Linked DNA regions of Homo sapiens: regions 1, 2, 3 and 4 are each linked to region 5. The links come from fine-mapping of genetic effects on gene expression. A gene starts in region 5. Each other region holds a variant in brackets. All regions are shown on one strand. Distances are between the middles of the regions.

Region 1 (4,000 bases), 54 kb before region 5:
GGACTTGTGACTATTTAAAGTCAGCAGAAATGATTTTAATTCCTTTCTTATAACTGCCCCTGCTATCTGACACATCTCATCTCTCCCTCTAGTCTTTAATATTGTCCTATCTCTGGCCATGATGGTGCCTCTCAAGAGCCCCACTGCAAGCTCCCAAACAGCCCCTCAGATGTTCACCTCAAGACAGGTGAATGGAGTCCGGTGTCCCGAGGTTTTCTGAGATACCTTAAGGTATTTCTAAAAAGATGATGATGGGCCTTATAAACAGGCAAATAGTTAACAACAAACTCCTAAAAAATCAGCAATGTTCGCCAGTTCAATCCAATTAGGGTGGGGAAGGTCCAACAAGAATTTGCAAAATGATTTAATAAAGGAACCAGAGGGCTGGTTGCATTGGCTCATGCCTGTACTTCTACCACTTTGGGAGGCCAAGAAGGAAGGATAGTTTGAGGCCAGGAGTTCAAGAACAACCTGGACAACATGGCCAAATCTCATCTCTACAAAAAAATTTTAAAACCAGCTAGACGTGGTAGCACATGCCTGTAGACCCAGCTACTTGGGAGGCTGAAGCTGGAGGATCACCTGAGCCCAGGACTTCAAAGTTGCAGTGAGATGTGATCATGCCACTGCACTGCAGCCTGGGTGACAGAGTGAGACCTTACCCCAAAAACTAAAAAAATAAAATAAAGGAACAGGAAATGCAAACTCCTCAAAGCATCACATGAAAGTCAGACAAACTTCCTAATAGCTGAACACATGGAGGTTCCTGGAGCCTCTTCATCTGTATCCTTCACAGTATCCTTTGTAATAAACCAGTAAAGGCATTAAAAAACATACATTTATGAGACAATGGTGTCTATGAAACTATGGATGATACAAGAGCTTCATTTGATATGGAAAAGTATCCCAATACTGAGGTCAGGAAAACCAAGTACGAACTCTGGAAGAATGGCAAGACAAGTGGGTGAACGGCAATATTGCTTTTCATCAAGAACAAGGACATCAGCTATTGAAGACGCATTTGGATACTTTTCTTAAAGGTGAGAGTAGACTGAAGGTATTTTTTCCTCCTTGTTGAGATGAAATGGTTTGCAGACCAAGGACACAATGTAGTTGGTGTATAAATCAGTGCACTTGGGATACAAGAATTTTTTACAGAGCAGAATCTTTCTTACTCAGAAGAACCAATTAGCAAAGTTCCTGAAGCCAAAGTATTTAAGAGTTCTTCAGAGAACATTTCATTGTACTGTTGCAGCATTTATTATCTTCCCCAAACACATATCGACAAATTTGACAGAATTTGGGATAGAGGAGCACTGGCTGCCATTAATCTAGGAGATTTCAAACACTATGCAGATACAATGTTGTCCCTACTGGGAAAAGGGTTTCAGTACCTCGAGTGTGTTCTTTCTTATGACCCAACTAAACATGCAGGCCCACTAGCTTATGTTCCACATGCTGAAATTGAAAGGTTGTTCAGTACAATATGCAATATTCATTGTCTTGAGATGATTGATGGTTTTGAAGAACAACATGAAAGTTGGCAAATTGACTACATTTTTGAAAAGTTATATCTACTTACAGAAAAGTAAATCAGATGTAAACAAAATCAAGTAACATCAACATGTTTTTGAGTTTCAGCAATTGAAAATTATGCTAAGGCATGAAAATGTAATGCATAAATTTTTTATTGTTTACAAATCATATCAAAGATCTTTGTTCAAAAACGCACATAGGTTTTTTTTTTTTTTTT[G/TG]AGACAGAGTCTCACTCTGTTGTCCAAGCTGGAGTGCAGTGGCACAATCTTGGCTCACTGCAACCTCTGACCTTAGGTTCAAGGGATTCTCATGCCTCGGCCTCCCAAGTAGCTGGGATTAAAGGTGTGTGCCACCACACCCAGCTAATTTTTTGTATTTTTAGTAGAGATGGGGTCTCACCATGTTGGCCAGGCTGGTCTCAAACTCCTGACCTCAAGTGATCTGCCCACCTTGGCCTCCCGAAGTGCTGGAATTACAGGCGTGGGCCACCACGGTTGGCTCCCTTTGCCCATTCTTAATTAGGCAGTTGTTCAATTTTCAAAACTGCATATATCTTTTTAGAAGAAAATAGATACTAAAATGTTAAAGTAGCTCCTTTGGGGAGGCGAGGAGGTGGAAGATTATGACTGTGTGTCTTGCTTACAGACTGCAAGACTTTTTACCAATCAATCCGCATGTATTACTTGTATAATTAAAAAATAAAAGAACAATGCAATGAATATTACTTAAATATAATAGACATAGAAAAACTGACATTCTATGAAATTTAGAATAATTGAAGAAATGTAATACTTCAGCAGGGTTCAACTAATCCCAAGAGCTATATAAAAGATTAGCTTTCACTATAAACCTTTGTCTTTTACTGAAATCCTAGCCATCTCTTTGCAAATGTTTTCTCCAGTACAATTTTATATGTAACAGAAACAAGAAACAAATACATTTTAATGAAATAATACAATTTATATGGAACAATATATTCTCAAATTATAAGAATAAATTTTGTTAAAGTTAAAAAAAAATATACAAGGATACAAATCCCTTATTTGCTTGCTTTTTTGTTTTGATAGAAACCCCTTAAATAATACTTGGCACATTTACCTTACAGCACTATGAATTTTTTTAACATTTTATTCCTACCCCATTACCATAAAACAAGTAAAAAATAACAGATTTCATAGTTAAGAGCATGGGCTTTTGGAGTCAGATGGTCTGAGGTTTGGTACAGGCTCTTTGTTTTCCATGTCTGTGACCTTATTAGATAACATCAGTCTCATCTGCTAAATGGGGGTGATTATAATACATTCCACAGAGACAGGGGAAGCTATAATCAATTAGTGTATGGCAGAGCACTTAGCACAGTGCCTGGGACAAAGAGAGTTTGCAATAAATGTTAGTTGTGATCATCTTCATCACTCTAATCTTTCTTTTTTTTTTTAAGGGAAATAAGCCAGGAAATGAACAATTAAAAAGGGGGTACAAATTCCTAAGCTACAATTAGGGAAATGAGGTAGAAATGCCATTTATAAGCTTTTTCCAACATAACTGATTCAAAGGCACTGAGTTCACAGTAATGAGCAGGAGTGACAGGTGGGGTGAGGTAGGGAGCGAGGCACCATTTCTAAACAGTGACAACACATTATTGAGCACAGCTTGAATTAAGTCCAAAGCTGCACATATCCAATTCACTTTTTAAGAAAATAGGAAAGAAACAAAACAATGTATAAATAAGCACAAAGGAAACAGCATCATTTAGGGGTGATTTTTACGAGCTTCAAGCAATTTCAAAGTGAACTACACCAAAAGTATTTCATATGCTTGGAAAGACAAAGTAATCTGTCCATAGCTCTGTGAAGAGTTTCACAATTAAAATCCAAGTCTATCTGACATCAAATCCACTTTCCTTCACACCAAGAGTCCCAACACTCCTGAGGGTTACAGCCCTCCCTCGGCCCAGGTTTACTGCAGCCGAAAAAGCAGCCTCCTCCCTACCATGACCTGACACTCCTCCATCACTGCCACTAGAAAGTCAGGAATAAAAACAGGTCCCAGGAGCCGTCTCGGGTAAGCCTCACAGCCACTGGTCAGCCATTCCTTAGTCACCGCATCTTCGGCTGCCCCATTTAGAAAGTGCTGACTGTATACCTGGCATTTAATACTTTATATCTCACTTACTCCTCAGACCCCTGCGACCTAATGGCTCCCTCATTGTGGAGACAAGGAAAGGGGTCTTAGTGGCTTAAGTCACTTGCCCAGGATTGCACAGAGAATACCAAAAGCATCTGGATATAAACCAGGAATGATCCCCGTCCTAAGCCTTTTCCACTTCTCAATAAGTGAATGAAAAAGCATCCAAGGATTATTTGCTAATGGAATTTGAAAGAAAAAAAAAAAAAAGAAGAGGTACAATTAAAGAAGATAAAGATTCAAGTTAGCACCTCACAGAGAAAACAAATTGAGAAGTTTTT
Region 2 (4,000 bases), 110 kb before region 5:
CTCTAAGAAAGACCCCAATTATACAATTTTAAAATAATAATAAAAACAAACTAGCCCACCCTCTTCCTTTGGAGACTGTGGAACCCAGTCATGTCTTGGGTCTTTAACAAGCACAACCTTACCTTATAGCATGCAGTCTCACAGGGGCAATATTGCTCCCAAGAAGCAAAAACAGGTTCTTTTGAGGTAAACATAATTGGATTCTTTTTAATTTTAATACCACAGATGTATTGCTTATGTATTGTTTATGTATATACATATAGTACATAAACAATATATATGTGGTATTAAAATGTCTTTGGGGGGTGATTAGGAAAAAACGTCTAAGAAGGCTCCTTAGAGGGGACAATAATTTTTTTAAAGTTGGGAAAGTTCTGCCTTACAGAAGTTCTGATTTGGCTTTGCATCGTAAGTGTAACACAGAGTTTTAAAACACCTTCTCAAACGTATATGGCTTTCCAAACTAAAGGAGTAAAAAATGAAAAATATAAGCACTTGGTGGCTCTTGGCAGAGTAGCAGCAGGTAGAGGGAAAACATTTTATAAGTGCCTAAATTAAAAAAAAAAAAAAAAAAAAAGAGGCAGGAGGGCAAGAGGGAGAGAGGGAAGGAGGAAGTTTTTCCCATGAGTTTAATCATCTGAGATGCCCCTGATACTAACACATGAACTGACCCTGAAAAAGGGTGGCTTACGGAGGTACAAAACTCACTTGTCTCCACAGCCACCCCTTCCTGGACTCCAAATTGTAGACTCTAGGAGCCGCGCTCAGAACATACTGCATCTGCCAAAAGCCACAACCTTGCTATATGAAGTTCAAATCAGAACACATAAGCCCACAAATCACATTCAGGTGGTTATGGGGAAAAAAAAATCCCCATTTAATAGAGTTTGCTTGGAACCTCTCCCCGACACCAAAACTGCAGAAAAGCTAAAGCATTAATTTTCTGCATTCCTCACACCCACAGGCAAAACCTAATTAATTTTTGAATCAGTTAGCAGTGCCTCTACCGCCACAAAAGTTTTTATTTCTAAGGTTCTAAAGGCAAAGGAAAGAACTAGAAGACCACAGTGCACATGCTTGTCTTTCCTCGGCGAGTTTCATGGCCTATGTGTGCATTGTCACACCTGCCAGCCAGAGGGGAGGGACGGAGGCCTAGGCTGAGCACCACCCTCAGAGGAACTCAAACCAGCAGCGCGGGTGGCTGTCGCGGAAGAAAAAGGAGTAGGCGTGACAGAGGTGCCCCGCCTTCCGCAGGTGGATCAGGGACCAAAGGGAGTCCCCCAGGAGGACAGAGAGGGGCCGAGGCCCCGCGTGATCACCTTCCAGCGGCTTCACGATCTGGAGCTTCTCAGGCAGGTAGGAGCGGCTGCTGAAGGACATGCCAGAGAAGCCGGTGAACTCGGAGAAGCGGGAGTGCGTGCCCAGGGACATGATGCTCTCAGTGGGTGTGAGGGAGCCGCTGCGCAGCTCGCCCTTCTCCGCCAGCTCCTGGAGCTTCCTCTCTTGCTCCTCCTCAAAGAACCTCCTCTCCGAGAGGTAGTTCTCCCGGCGCAGGGACAGCCGCCTCAGCGCCGTCTCCAGGTCGTGGGAGCCTGGGGTGCCCGGCGTCCCCGGCTTCTTACTCCGCTCATCGTTTCTGGAAGAAGAAAGGGGTGTGAGGGTGGAATGCCAGCAGGGCTCCAAGGCCACAGAGGCCCGACTGCTCAATGCACAGCGGTGGACGTTCCCTGGGGCTACAGGATTCTCCATGGGAACCAAGGCAAGCAGTTGACATTTAGGCAACAGGGGGAAATAAATTCGTGTCCAGAACCACTCCCGCCAGGGGTCTTTTTTAGTGGGGTTGAGGTGGGGTGAGGACTAAGGTGGGATGAATATCTGCACACAGACTAAGTAAATTCAGTCCCTGTAAACATCTCCCTGAAGAACCTTTAGGAAGAAACCTGTAGGTTGCTGTTCCTGGCTACCAGAAGGATAATGGGGTTAAGGCATGTTTCTCTCTTCTCTTGAAGGAAAAGAGCCCAGACCCCAACTCTGAACAAAACCTGCTCTGATCAAGGAGCTTCCTGTCTGTCTGTTCCAACTGGTCCGGAAGAATCAATTTTATTAAGTCAGAGGAAAAGGATGCACAAAGTAGACAATGGTGTGTGTGTGTGTGTGTGTGTGTGTGTGTGTGTGTGTGTGTGTGTGTCCGTCTGTCCGTCCGTCCGTCCGTCC[GTCCA/A]GGTTCTGCAGGGCTTCAGGACAAAGAGGAACTGACCATTCCTGAGGAAAGCCCAGTCCTGGGCACCTTGGCCCCCCTGCACCCCACCCTCTGAACCTTGTGACCACATTCTGGTCACAAGACAGACAGCCTGAGTCCTCCTCAGCCTTTCCAACATCAAGCTACAAAACGGTCACAAAACAAATGTCTATTCTGTAGCCTTACCGTGAAGATTAACAAAAAAAAAAATATTCATTAATCCTTCCCCCAAGCATTTCACAGGAAAGCAGACTTTCTGGTATCATCTTGTTATACATCTTTAAGCTGATTAAAATATCATATCAAGGATAGGCATAGGCTCAAGTGGGTAAGCAGAACAGATTTGGAGAACTGTAAGGTCCGCTTTTTTTTTTTGAGACAGAGTCTCACTCTGTCACCCAGACAGGAGTGCAGTGGTGCAATTATCAGCTTGCTGCAACCTCCACCTCCCGGGTTCAAGCGATTCTCCTGCCTCAGCCTCCTGAGTAGCTGAGATTACAGGTGCATGCCACCATGCCCAGCTAATTTTTTGTATGTTTAGTAGACATGGGATTTTGCAATGTTGCCCAGGCTGGTCTCAAACTCCTGAGCTCAGGCAATCCTCCCGCCTCGGTCTCCGAAAGTGCTAGGATTATAGGCGCGAGCCACCACGCCCGGCCAGGTCTGTATTTTTCAGGTGACTCTCATCTACCTCCCTCTTAATAATTACTGAGCCTGCAGACAATCCATACTACCACTCCTCACCCCAAAACAGAGAAGTGAAAACTCCCAGCTTGCTCACCCCAGGTCGGCTGCCTCTGTTTCCAGAATGATGCTGTTGGTCTTGTTGTCGAGGACGACGTTGCCTATGTCGCTGCCGTAGAAGCTGGACCGGGGGGTGCTGACGCAGCTGGACAGGAGGGAGTTCATGGCCGAGGACTGGTTGGAGCCGGGGATGTTCATGGGAGAAGGGGTCAGAGATCTCTGCTTGACAACCTGGTTGATGTTTCTTACTGTCTCAAAGACACGCTTCTGGTGACTAGGGAGAATGCACGGCATCCGTGAGTGAGCAAATGCGGGCACAACCCTGGAGTTTAACCCTCCAAAAATGATCAACTGAGCCAAAAGGGCACCTGGCCTATGACGAGTCCCCCAGCAGCCTGCTATCCTGTGCCTGCCACCTGTTTCTTAGGGTATTGGCTGCCTCCTTCACAATGCGAAATTTGAGAGATTCAACACCCACTAAACCCAGGACTCGAACGCATGGTTGTATCCTAAAGGTGATGCCAGCAAGAGTGAAATTGTGTTTCACATCCCTAAAGCTTAACCCACAAATAAAAATACTTAAGTATGACTTTTGTCTCCTAGATTTCTTTTTTCATAATATTCACTAGAATAAACGCTGCAGCAGGGCAGTGTTTACTGCTCAGCGCAGCAGAAATCAATCAATACTTGTAGAATGGATATTTGTTGAACATTCATATAAAAAAAGGAAGACTTCAAGTTAGTCTTTCACTTCTATAATAAGATGATAAATACTAGATTTGTCTAATTTTGGAAAGTGTTATTTTAGGAGCAGAACCACTTTGATGCTCATTTGTTCCCTTTTAAAGAGAAAAGGGTAGGCATGTTTTTACAATGGCCACTTCCTTCTGGGCTGCAGAGGGTGTCACACATATACCAAACCTCACTTGGACACTTGCCACTCCCAGGATCTCATTTAAGTTCTGTCTATGGAGTCTGAGTACACAGAAAACACAATGAAACCTGGTCCACATGTTCCTT
Region 3 (4,000 bases), 120 kb before region 5:
GGGAGGTTTCTATCACAGAGATTTCGAACCACACATCACAAGATCTTTTTCTGGTTTCTGCACAACTTATTTTTGGTTTCTGCAAAATTAAAAGTCGACTCTTCTTCCCACTACACCAAGTTGCCTACCCTGTTTCATCTGAAAAGTATGTGATTTAAGAGATAAACAATTTCACAGCATTGTGCAGAGAGGGTCAGAAATTCTCTCAAGTGCCCCTGGGGTATCTTCTAGAGAGAGGGGGATTTTTAGAATGCTATTAAAACGTCCAAAGGGCAAATGCAGAAATCCCTTTGTAGTCTTCAGACACCAACAAAGCTGGTCCCTATACCCTCTGTCCTCTTGTCCTTCCTTCTGTGGCAGACACCAACAGGTGAAGGGAGCTGGCCTGGCTGAGCTGCATCAAGACCTTTCCCCACTAGTGCGTTCAAGGCCAGCACAAGAGAGCACTTCACCTGTGCTTCACTAGGCAGTGTGGTTGCACAGCTCCTCCTCTCAACACAGGGTGCTCCCTCAAGGGCCCTCCACATTAGAAGGGTGTCAGGTTCAGACACCTCCTCAGCAACCCACGTGCCTCTAGGAGCACCAGGGGGCCCTCTGTAGTGTTCAGAGGTGAGGATACCAGAGAGAAAATGCTCAACAAGTGGGCTTTGTTCTGGATATTTTAAGCAGGGTTGACTCTATGCTGTTTGTTTTGAAGGAGTCAATTCTTTCATTCTTCATTCATTTTTCCACTTGCAGGTGGCAGTTGGCCTGTTTTACTCTGGCTTAATATATATTCTGACGGCAGAGCACAGGGCTTTCCTTAGCATCTCCTAATACAGGTGGGTGTGAGCCAACTATCCACTCTGTCCATAACAACAAAACTCCCTCATAACTGCCATAAAACCAGGCTGAATCGAAGTGTTCCCAACAGCATGGGAACTCACATCAACTCTCTCAGTGTAGACAATGGGAAGGAACTTGCCTGCACCCAAGGGTCTGTGAATCGAGCATACCAGACTTTTCCTTCCAGACCCATCAAGCCCCCAAACCAACTTCTCACAAGCCTGTCTGAACCCCAGTTCTGTGGTCTGTGGTGTACTGAAGAGGGGACAGGATACAAGCTGGCTGAGCTTTGCTCTAGCTGCCCCGCCCGGGCAAAGCTGCAGGAACACCCAGCTGGCCTGACTCCGCCTGGCTCCTTCTCACCACAAGCCCTTCTCTGCCCTTTCCTCACTCAGTCACTGCTCCTGACCTTGGGCCTATGTATCAAACAAGGAGGCAACGAAAGAAGCTGATTCCTGGCTTTCGCCTTGGTGGCCCAGTTGCTGGAGATTTAGGGAATTTTTTAAGGGCAATTTTAGCCAAGTGTGTTTTTTGTCTTCCATTCTGACTTTAAGATCTCAGCTCTAGGCCAGATGTGGTGGCTCACACCAGGAATCCCAGCACTTTGGGAGGTCGAGGCGGTCAGATCACTTGAAGCCAGGAATTCGAGACCAGCCTGGTTAACAGGGTGAAAGCCTGTCTCTACAAAAATACAAAAAATTAGCTGGAATGGTGACGTGTGCCTATAGTCCCAGCTACTTGGGAGGCTGAGGCAGGAAAAGCACTTGAACCGGGAGGTGGAAGTTGCAGTGAGCCGAGATTGCACCACTGCCCTCCAGCCTAGGCAACAGAGCAAGACTCCGTCTCAAAAAAAAAAAAAAAAAAAAAATCTCAGCTCCAATTAGGACATGGTTCTACTGCAGGGCCACTGCCAGGTAAGATGTCAAGATGCCATGATTCGTGTAAGTTTTTGAGGATATCTCCCCTCAATATGAACCAGTCTTGATGAGTAAAAGCATTAAAATAAACTGACTGTCAATTTTCTCTATCCATGTGGCTTGAATCCTACTTCTTTCTCACCTTTAAGGATCAAAGCATTCAAGATAATTCAACTGAACTGCCCATCCACTAGCCAACTACCAATTTAACTGTGTGACTTTAACTCTTAATCCTTTGCCACATGCAGGCTCTTCCCCACACAAATGCCTAAAATACAGAGTACTGACAGAAAAAGATGATAACTAGTTCTGATAAAGTATACTTTCTATATAAATTAAAACATAAAACATATCACTGAAATAAAGTAAAACTATAATCTAAAACTTTTTAAACAATCCATTTTAAT[C/A]ATCTAAATTATTTACAATACAATAACATGGATTCATCCTTTTTAAGACATGGGATTGTAAAAATCAACAAGTGAATGATGCTTCAAATAATACATTTAAATACATTAATCAAATTTTTTCAGTGCTTAAAACTTTTTCTCCATGGGACAGCAGGCTCTGGACAAAAGTGCCTAGCATACAAGTTTTCCCAATTTCCTTCTATCATACCAGCTGCACATAAAAAGGTTCATCACCTCCTGTCTCCAAAGTGTCTCCCTACTGAGTGTTCCCAGGCAGACAATAGTTCCTGGGATAGTGCTGTTTGGTAACAGAAAAGCCCAAGCGTAGAGGACGGATTAAAAGGCAGGGACCAGACCACCATGGATACAAATCCCAAGACAGAGGATGCCCCATGCCTTCCCCATGAAGCTTATCTGTCTGCCTGTGTCTCCATGATTGCAGGCATAGAGCTACTTGGGACCTCCAGGATGATTTACTTAGCGATATGCTTTTTACATTCTAAGAATCAAAATGGTCCTGTAATTCCCAATAGAGAAAATAGAGCCAATTCATTGTTCTCCCCTCTCCCCTCTGAAGCCAGTTTTTAAAGATGAGCCTTACCCAGAAAATAAGCCCCAAAGAACTCTCATCTAAATGATCAGACCCTTCCTAAATTACCTTTGGCAACCTAGGTAATTCTTTTTTATTACACACCTCCAACCTGACCCTTTCTACAGTTTCAACTATAAATGTTCATGCCCCTCGTCAAATAACGTTGCTAGGATGAATTTGCCACAGGTTTGAGTACAGAGAGAACAAGCAAGAAAAATGTCAGTGTTTATTTTAAGGAGAGTGGCCAGGATGTCAGTCCTCATAATTGGTCCCTTCTCTCTCTCTATCCTCCAAGGTAAGTTCTTTGTTGACTTGATAAGCTTTAGTCCTTCTGTACAACTTCTAGAAGATGCACTTAATGGTGCTTCTTTGCACTTCCAGAACTCACCTTCTATTCTACCTGTAAGGCTGTAGGGGAGCATCCCAATCAACATAAGGCCTACCCCTTTAGCCACGAAAATCAGCCAGGCATCATGTTTCTGCACCACCACCTGCCTTCCTGACGGACACTGGTGCTGATGACAAAAATGGGACAGTACCGCAGCTGGTTTCTCTTTTTCGAGTGTGTAGATAACAAATAAAAAACATTTTCATTCCCTCACAAGCTTAATCTAGTAATATAACTGCCTAAAAAAAATCAAACCATAAATAAACCTATGTGCTAAACAAATCACATGACTTGATGACTTCTCTAAAATTAATGTCAAGGAAAAAAGGAAAAGTTGATCCCAAGTAAAATCCCTTGACCACAGCTGTCTGAAATTAGCCAGGGGAATGGGAGACACCACCAAGAACCTCAGCTCTTTCCTGCCCTGTATTTCAAGGGGAGTGTTGTGGCCTTCACAAATGAAAATTATGAATCACAAAGATAAACGTCCTCACTTCTAACCTGGTGAATCCTCAGGAATGTCATGAGGATGACAACACAGGGTTAATTCATTTTTTCTCAGTCTCCCCCCTGACTCCACAAAAGCTTTGCCTTCCCAACACAAGGGGCTGGGAGGTCCAGTCTAGACAGAGCATGCTGTTGGGGTAAACAGTAACCATGTGATCCCATGATTCCCAGAGCTCTGAGCACAAAGCTTTTCATCCCAGTGGCAACTGGAATGTGGGTAATTCTGTAAACTCATGGCCACACCTTTAATGCTTGGGGACAGTGGGTGGAGTCAGCCAGAGCTCTTTTCCAACTTCATCTAGGGTCTTCTCTCTGGAAAAGCTTAGTGACGTTCTCCGAAGGTTTATTTGGTTAAGGAGTATTG
Region 4 (4,000 bases), 27 kb before region 5:
ATTGAGGCTACAGTTCCAATTACTTTGGTCTCTGTTAAAGCAGCTAACTCAACACCCTAACAGCCTTTCTTATCAAGCCCAGCCTCTGCTATTTTCTCCAATTTCCCTTCACTTAAGGCATACCAACTTCTCACCATTTTCCAAACACATTTTTTTCACAAATCTGAGTTTTTAGACCAGCTGTTTTAGCTCCCTAGAATGCCCTTCACTGCCTAGCAAACTCCATCTTAAAATATCATTCAAATGTCACTCTCTATTGCAAAGCCTCCCTTAACCTCTCTTCTCTGGCTTCCACAGTTCTCAGTACATAAATGACTTCACTACGATGTTAGAAGTGTATTCTCTGTGGCTCTTCCCTACTAATTGTGAGCCCCTCAAGAGAAAAGGCTTTGAATTATCCACCTTACCTTCAGCCCAGCCCTTACTACTTTGCCAGGCAACAGTAAGTGTGAGAAGAGTGATGGAACAAGGGAAGGAGAGAGCAGCAGCCGGTGGCAGGACTAGTCTGTGAATCCCCTGCCTGTCCAGGACAGACACATGCCCAGCCTGCAACATGAGGCAGGTGGAGCCATCTAGTGTCAAGGTCTTTTCAAACCCACCTCAGTATCACCCTAGGTCTTTATCCAGCATAGAGGAAAGTCCCATGGGATGGTAAATGTCCCCTCAATTGCTCAGCAGATGTCAATCCAATACCTACCATTCTTATGACATCACTTTGAAAGTAAAATAACCTAAAAGGACTCTTTACCTCTTCAGAGGTATAACCCTTCCTAGGTTTTTCCCAAGGCGTAAGATTTGGAATGGACCCTCCTACCCAGGATGTGGGCTTCAGTTAGGGCCACCAGGGAGTGAAGAAAGTGTGCTGGAGCCTGCTTGGCACCTGGAAGGTGCAGAGCTGCAGAAGCAGCTGTGTCCATTCTCCACCTGACTGGGGCTAGATCCTCACCTGCAGAGAGCGGCTAGGAGGAGACTCCTCCGTCTAGGGATTTGCACTGATTCTCAGGTGACATGCCAGCTTCACAAAACCTGCCAGGTGCCTGAGGCAATGCTTACATTTTACAGCAAAGGCAATAGCTCTAAATTAGTGTCCAACATTTAACACTCAGAGAACCTCATGTAAATACAGATCTCAGCGGGGCGCAGTGGCTCACACCTATAATCCCAGCACTTTGGGAGGCCGAGGCGGGCAGATCACTTGAGGTCAGGAGTTCAAAACCAGCCTGGCCAACATGGTGAAACTCCGTTTCTACTAAAAATACAAAAAAAAAAAATTAGATGGGCGTGATGGTGGACGCCTATAATCCCAGCTACTTGGGAGGCTGAAGCAGGAAGAACTGCTTGAACCCGGGAGGTGGAGGTTGCAGTGAGCCAAGATCGCAGCACTGCACTCCAGCCTGGGCGACAGAGTGAAACTCCCTCTAAAAACAATAAAAATACAGCACTTTGGGAGGCCAAGGTGGGCGGATCACAAGGTCAGGACATCGAGACCATCTTGGCCAACATGGTGAAACCCCGTCTCTACTAAAAATACAAAAATTATCTGGGCGTGGCAGCACGTGCCTGTAATCCCAGCTACTCGGGAGGCTGAGGCGGGAGAATCGCTTAAACCCAGGAGGCAGAGGTTGGGCAGTGAGCCGAGATCAGGCCACTGCATTCCAGCCTGATGACAGAGCTAGACTCAGTCTCAAAAAAAAAAAAGAAAAGAAGAAATACAGATATGTGGACTCTCAGAAGAAGTCAGCCTATCTAGGATCAAGGGACCTCCTCCTCCACAGAGGAGTTAAATGCTCTGAGTGGTGGCCACCTCCAGAGAGGGAGTGCGATCATTCCAACAGGGTTTCTGGGCCTCGTGCCTGCACGCTGGAGCTTGAGGGCTCTAAGCCCAGGAGAACAGGGACCTGAGTAGCTGCAAGGTGAGCAGAGTGTGCAGAAGAGCTGTCTAGAAGGAAAGTAGCCCTAGACACTCACCCAGTTGGCAGGAGATCTGAGAAAACAGCAAGGGGAGAGGGAAGAATAAAAGACAGGAGAGAGAAAGAGGAAAAACCTAGTGAGAGAAAGCTCAAGCAAAAGCAAAGGAGGAGAGAAGAACAGGAGAGGGAGGAAAGGAATGCCAGAAAGAGGCAATGGCAGGAAACCAGCACCACAACTGCCACCTGCTGGAAGCCGAGAGGCCCTGGGTGCCGGCCAGGAGCACAGTTTCAAGAGTTTGGAGAAAGGACGCCCAGCCTCGGTTCTGCCCCCTCAACTTCGTCCTATCACTCTGGCAAATCACATGTTCATATGCCTGGGACTCAGTTTCTTCCT[CT/T]GTAGAACAAAGGTAAGTGGCTGCAGAAAAGCTTTCTTCATACCCTAAATTTCTCTGAGCGGTGAGAGCAAGAGTTGCACATTCTGAGGGCTGTGTCTGGGGGGCAGCCGCCACTCACAGCACTTCCCGGTGACGCCCCCAGTCCTTGACATGCTGACTCCACCCAAGAGACCAGGGATCTGTATTTTTATGAGAGTCCCTGATTTCTAAATGTTGAATACTGAGGGCCAGATTAAACATGCATGCCTCCAGTCTGCACACTGGGACTTCCATCCTGGCGCCACACTCTGGGACTTCAGAGAATGCTACAGACCACATTAAAGGTGACAAAGAACAAGAAAAGGGACCTTCGCTCATCAAATAGTGGCCACCATACAGAGGTCCATCTTTTTTATTTTTTTCCTCCCTGTCCCTCTCCCACTCCATTTCTTTACCCACCAACTTTCCACTTGGCCATCAGAGAGGTGGGTGCAGAGCATGACCCCTGGCTATGCTTGGGGAGGCAGGCGCTCTGGCTAGAGGCAATAACCCTCTCTCATGACACATTACCCATGGCAGTGACTGCAAACCCACAGCAATGTTTTAATGACTTCACAAGACAACACTCCTCACCTACTCAGCCACTTGGAAACCATTCTGTACAGACTTGGAAACAATTCCATTTTCTTAAAATTATAAGGATTAAAGGGCAGGAATAAAGACTCATACATAGGCCACACTGGTGCTGGAGATGTATGTGATACTTTGTAAGTGGTATCTGACAGACAACCTTCTAGAAAATTCCTCTCTATCAAGGGACTATGCAGTTTACAGCTTTAGCTGAACATCTTCAGAGATTCAGTCTTAGTAATTACTTTCCATACCACAAAAGTTGTGATTCCACAAATTACAAAGAGGACATTAGAGCTAAAAACTACTGGCGCAACCTCCTCATTGAATGGAAAAGGACACTGTGTTCAAGCTGAGGAGGTGGCCAAATGTCACAGAGCAAACCAGCAGCAGACTCGAGATGGGTGCTTGGCCTGCGGCAGGTCCCACCATGCAAGAGGCCTCGGGATGTAGCGACAGCACCTCCAGATGCTGATTCGCTTTCCGCTGTTTGCCCAGCACCCGGAACCCTGCCTGGTAACTAGTAAGTGTTCAATAAATGTTTGCTGAACAACGCAAAGCACTTGTATCTATTACTGCCTTTCATTTACTCTCACAAGCCAGCAGGCAGTGCAGGATGAGGATTGGGAACACATTTCATAAATGAGGAGACCCAGATCTAAAAGACAGAAGGGGAAACTGTGGCCCTGCAAGGTTCAGAGACATGGGGGAAGTCTCAAGGCTAAGCAGTGGCAGAAATGGAAGCAAGACCTCCGACTCCACCCTGGCTCACACCCCAGCCACAAAGGGACAAGGGATAGGTCCAAGTCTTCCTTTTCTGCCTCTCTCCCCACTGAGGGACAGCTCACTTGCTGTGAACAGCAAAGGGGATCTCCAGAAGAGAGAAGGACAAGCAGAGAAACCCTCATAGGATGGGAAAGGAAAGACTAACTATGCTTCAGAGACAGGAACGAAAACCAACACTGGGGAGTTCTCTAGAATTCCATGGCCTTAATTACCAACAGAAGAAACGCTTTCTAAGAAAACGGACACAAAATTACACAGTTGAGTTCCACATAGCCTGGTGTCACGTACCGAGTTACCATC
Region 5 (4,302 bases):
GATAGAAAAGGAAAAGATCCTGGGTCAGGCATGGTGGCTCACGCCTGTAATCCCAGCACTTTGGGAGGCCGAGGCAGGGGGATCACTTGAGCCCAGGAATTCAAAACCAGCCTGGGCAATACAGTGAGTCACGAAATAACATAACATAACATAACATAACATAACATAACATAACATAACATAACATAACATAACACAACACAACACAACACAACACAACACAACAAAATAAAAGGAACAAATTCTAAGCCATGGCCCTTTGATGAAGAGTCCTCCCAGGCAGGGCTACTCCTGTTAGCAGATTTTTCCTAGGCAATTCTCACTCGGTTTACAGCTTCTCCTTTACACCCTGGCCCACCTCTGTGCTCTGAGGGCAGGACCAGTCCTCTCTCTGACCCCAGGAATTAACATAAACCCCAGTAAAAACCTGGCCCTGGGTGCACGCTGCTTCAACACACAAAAATAAGTACGATTGCCTCAGTAAGATGCATGTTTGAAGTGTCTTTAGGCTTATTCAATAAGATTTACATGTTTTAAAGCCTAAAACTGACTGGAATGGAACAGGAGCTCACTTCTCTCAGGAATTAACTGTTTTCTGGCCCAGACAGCTCTCAGGAAGCAGCGTGTAGACAGGACAGAAACCAGATGGGTCATCAACCACTGGACTCTGACCAGCTTAGAGGAAGTGAGAGGTGTCAGCCCCACAGCAAGAGACACAAGCCACAGCAGATCTGATTAGCAAGCCCTCCATCACTGGGGTGTGGATCCGAGTCCCAGGCCCAAGCATTTAGTAAAGGACAAAAAAGAAAGGGAGGGTGGAAGAGAGGGAAACGGGAGAGAGGGAGGGAGACAGTCTAACTCTGTCCTTCACCTTCTGAAAAACTCCTTGCTGACCCAAGATACCAGGTTAGCATCTAAGAAATCAGGATAAAGACAAGACATAGGATTAGAGAAATCAGAGCTGGAGAGGCGGAGGAGGCCTTAGAAACCCTGTCCACCCACTGCAGAGAACTGTGAAGGGAAAGGGAGTGGCAGTGCAGGGGGTCTGGGCTCAACTCAGCCCTGTGCTCATGCCCTGCAAGTGTCACTTGCACCTACTGAGCCTGGGCAAGGGGACAAGGGGACCTGGGAACGGGAGATGGGGGGGTGGTGAGGGCAGTAGTTGTGTCTCTGAAGTCCCTTTGCTCTGCCTATCATTCAACATGGCAATTTCTCTACCACATGACCATGAACAACCTCCCAAGCAGCACGGAGCAAGAGAGAGACAGCTTCTCCTGTGGTCTTTTCTCCTTTCCGACCACACCACAAAGAAAACAGACAGCAGACAGACCTGGCAAACAAACTTACCACAGGCGTTTGTCCGAATGAGCTTGCCGTGGCAGAGTCCTGGCAGAGGCTGAGCCCTGACGGGCTGCCCGAATTGAAAAACCAATGCCATGTGCAGACATAAACTCCAAAGGCACTTCAGAGAACAGAGAGAGCCTCCATGAGAGCTCAGCCCCGGCAGTACCTCGCACAGCCACCCTCCCGTGCCTTCCTCAGCAGTTTTCTGAGTTTGCTTGTTAGGGCAAATCCTAAGATTGTGAGCTGTCCTGGAAGCACAATGGGTTATGTAACTCCAGGCAGCCTGGGAACCCTATCAGCTCATCTTGTTAAGCCACCCCAAACAGAAAATGACGCACCCAAAAATGTGATACCTCTAGGTTGGGGGAAGGGGAGTAGCAAGGAGAACGGGGCTTTGTGATGGGCATTCGGTTTTGCCTAAAAATTAAAGTGGAACAAAAAGTCTGCTGTTCATCTCAGGGCTTGCTGGGAACTGGGGGAGGAGTGAATTTATCAAGGGCTGAATGCCAAGCAGTGTCCTGAGACTGCACTTGGCAAAGCCCTGGGAGGCCACAGATGCATTCTTGGGGATAGTCTAGGTCTCTCGGAGAACTTTTTTCCATTTAATGTCTTCCTTTCAATGACTGCCTAATAAAACTTTAATCCGAGCATGTTCTCCATCACCTGACAGCCCATCCCTTAAACGCATAAGAGTGTCTGTGTTTACTCTCCTGTTTACCAAGCCAGTGCTAAACACAACAGCACCGAGCTGTTTCTCAGCTTTCCTCTGGTCCCAACAAAGAACCCCCAAGTCACCACATCCTATAGGGTTTGAAGTTTCAGCACTACATTCTGCCACTTCTTTGTTGTGTTTTTTGTTGTTGCTGTTTCGTTTTGTTTTTTTGAGAGAGTCTCACTCTGTCGCCAAGGCTAGAGTACAGTAGCACTGTGTCAGCTCACTGCAACCTCCATCTCCTAGGTTCAAGCAATTCTGCCTCAGCCTCCCAAGTAGCTGAGATTACAGGCGTCCGTCACCATGCCTGGCTAGTTTTTATATTTTTAGTAGAGACGGGGTTTCACCATGTTGGCCAGGCTGGTCTTGAACTCCTGACCTCAGGTGATCTGCCCGCCTCGGCCTCCCAAAGTGCTGGGATCATAGGCGTGAGCCACCACGCCCAGCTGTGAAGTTTCAGCGGTACATTCTGCCATTTCTTTACCCTCCACTGTCACATTCAAAGAAAGTGAAAGCACTTTAACAGGCTGGATGCTTCCTGGATTTCACTGGTACAGATGCCACTAGAATCCCAAGGATCAATTCATGTGTTTGGACAAATGTAGATGCGGTTGGGTCATCGCCTCCTCCACAAAGCCCTCGTGGTCTTCTCCTGTCCTTTCCCCTCCAAGGTTCAGCCTGGCACCCTCCTTGGTGCCCTACTGTGCTGTGCTTATCATTGTGCTAACCTCGGTGTACAGCCAATTTCTACTCACTCATCTGTCTCCCCAACTAGACTAAATTCTTAGGCAGCAAAGAACCCTTGCCCTGGGGTCCTACAGACCTGGATGCAACTCCTGCCACTCAGGAGTTTCACCAAGGTGCTGAACCTTTCGAGATTTAGACTCTTCACTTACACAAAGAGGATAATAGTACTCACTGCACAAATTGACACAATTGATACACCCAACAAATGTTCACTGAGCGCTGGCCACAGGCAGGCACTACGTTAGTCACTGGATTCAGGAGTGTGCAAAGTAGACACAGAGTTTGCCCTCCGCGACTTTAGTCTACTGCAAGTTTGGGAGACAAAACACAAATACAGTAGTTCAGCAGATGGTTAAGTTTGGGGGAAAAAATTAAACAGGAAAGGGAGATGGGGAAAGGTGAGGCAGATCACTCTGTATTGGGGGGGGGTCACAAAAAGCATCAAATAAAATGTCACTTGGAGAAGGAAGAGGGGGTCATAAGGATATCTGGAGTTAAGGCAATCCAAAGACCCTGAGGCTGGATGTGCCTGGTGAGTTCAAGGTTAAGTGAGGCGGCCAGTGTACCTGGAGCACGGAGGGCACAGAGGAGGCAGGTCAGCGGGGCAAAGAGGGATTCCTGTCATTCAGCCCCTTCCTTACAGGTCTCTATAGAAGGGGAGCTCACTGGAAGTTTGGAGGAGAGTTAAACCATCTGATTGTATTAAAAGCCAACTCTCATGGTTGAGCGGAGAAAGAATTTTAGGGAGGCAAGGGTAGCAGTAAGAGGCCCCACTGGAAGGCCAGTGCGGTCATCCAGGTGTGAGATGGGGGTGGCTGGGACACAGTAAATGCTGGGTAGATTCTGAACATACTCTGAAGATACAGCCAACAGAATTCTTGACAAACTGGGGTATGAATCGCAGAAAGGCAGAATCACAAATGCCTCCAAGGTTCTTGGCCTGAGCAACTAGAATAATGAAAGCACCATTTACAAGGATGGGGAAAACCCTAAGAAAAGCAGGTGCAGGTGGAAACCAGGAGCTCATTTTTGGTCATTTGAGTTTGACATGCCTGTTAGACATCTAAGTGGAAACTCATGTGGAGTCAGTCTGAGACATCTGGCCTTAAGGAGGAAGGGCCAGGCTGAGTACAGAAACCACCGAGTGGCCAGTACAGAAGGCGATTTTAAAACCTGTGTGCTGGGTGAGATCAAGTGCTGCACAGGTGCACACATAAGAGCAAAGAGGCGGAAAGGCTGGGCCCCGGGCCCTTCAACGTTCCCAGGCTTGGGAGAAGAAGAAACGCAGCCACTGAGGCAGAAGAACAGGGAGAGTGTGGGGACCCAGAAGCCAAGTAAAGACTGTACTTCCAGGACACAGGACTTGGCAACAGTGTGAACTACCACTGAAAAGTGAAGTAAGGTGAAGGCAGAGGACAGACCCCTGGACTGAACCAGGCTGTCAGTGTGGTGGGGCATGAGCCTGCCTGCAGTGGACTCCAGAGAGAACAAAAGAAAAA

Alleles and levels. Alleles are on the strand shown, and positions count from the first base shown. SD is a standard deviation of normalised expression in the study named. Not every link is listed here.
In carriers of allele GTCCA in region 2, the expression in CD4 T cells of the gene that starts at base 1,551 in region 5 tends to be higher than with A alone (moderate effect, 0.53 SD a copy in CEDAR).
In carriers of allele C in region 3, the expression in regulatory T cells of the gene that starts at base 1,551 in region 5 tends to be higher than with A alone (large effect, 0.94 SD a copy in Schmiedel 2018).

What was found. PIP is the estimated chance that this variant, and not a neighbour inherited with it, causes the effect.
Region 1: its variant is the best candidate, but not a certain one, in a credible set for the expression of TRAK1 in whole blood (INTERVAL, PIP 0.51).
Region 2: its variant is the best candidate, but not a certain one, in a credible set for the expression of TRAK1 in CD4 T cells (CEDAR, PIP 0.78).
Region 3: its variant is the best candidate, but not a certain one, in a credible set for the expression of TRAK1 in regulatory T cells (Schmiedel 2018, PIP 0.81).
Region 4: its variant is the best candidate, but not a certain one, in a credible set for the expression of TRAK1 in whole blood (INTERVAL, PIP 0.55).

Annotation. Positions count from the first base shown.
Region 1 is chr3:42,143,238-42,147,237 of GRCh38, reverse strand. The region is part of intron 2 of TRAK1 (trafficking kinesin protein 1); the gene reads right to left. It also overlaps the pseudogene TPMTP2. Among named protein-coding and RNA genes, the nearest start is that of TRAK1, 54 kb to the right of the region's middle. The variant G/TG (reference allele first, on the strand shown) is at 1,754.
Region 2 is chr3:42,200,072-42,204,071 of GRCh38, reverse strand. It overlaps TRAK1 (trafficking kinesin protein 1), which reads right to left. Exons shown (of 16, transcript NM_001042646.3): 12 at 3,018-3,254; 13 at 1,320-1,636. Among named protein-coding and RNA genes, the nearest start is that of CCK, 64 kb to the left of the region's middle. The variant GTCCA/A (reference allele first, on the strand shown) is at 2,215.
Region 3 is chr3:42,210,748-42,214,747 of GRCh38, reverse strand. The region is part of intron 14 of TRAK1 (trafficking kinesin protein 1); the gene reads right to left. Among named protein-coding and RNA genes, the nearest start is that of CCK, 53 kb to the left of the region's middle. RefSeq lists enhancers at 66-175, 1,132-1,633. The variant C/A (reference allele first, on the strand shown) is at 2,150.
Region 4 is chr3:42,115,523-42,119,522 of GRCh38, reverse strand. The region is part of intron 1 of TRAK1 (trafficking kinesin protein 1); the gene reads right to left. Among named protein-coding and RNA genes, the nearest start is that of TRAK1, 26 kb to the right of the region's middle. RefSeq lists an enhancer at 322-411. The variant CT/T (reference allele first, on the strand shown) is at 2,305.
Region 5 is chr3:42,088,606-42,092,907 of GRCh38, reverse strand. TRAK1 (trafficking kinesin protein 1) reads right to left here and starts at 1,551. Exons shown (of 16, transcript NM_001042646.3): 1 at 1,348-1,551. The coding sequence starts at 1,438.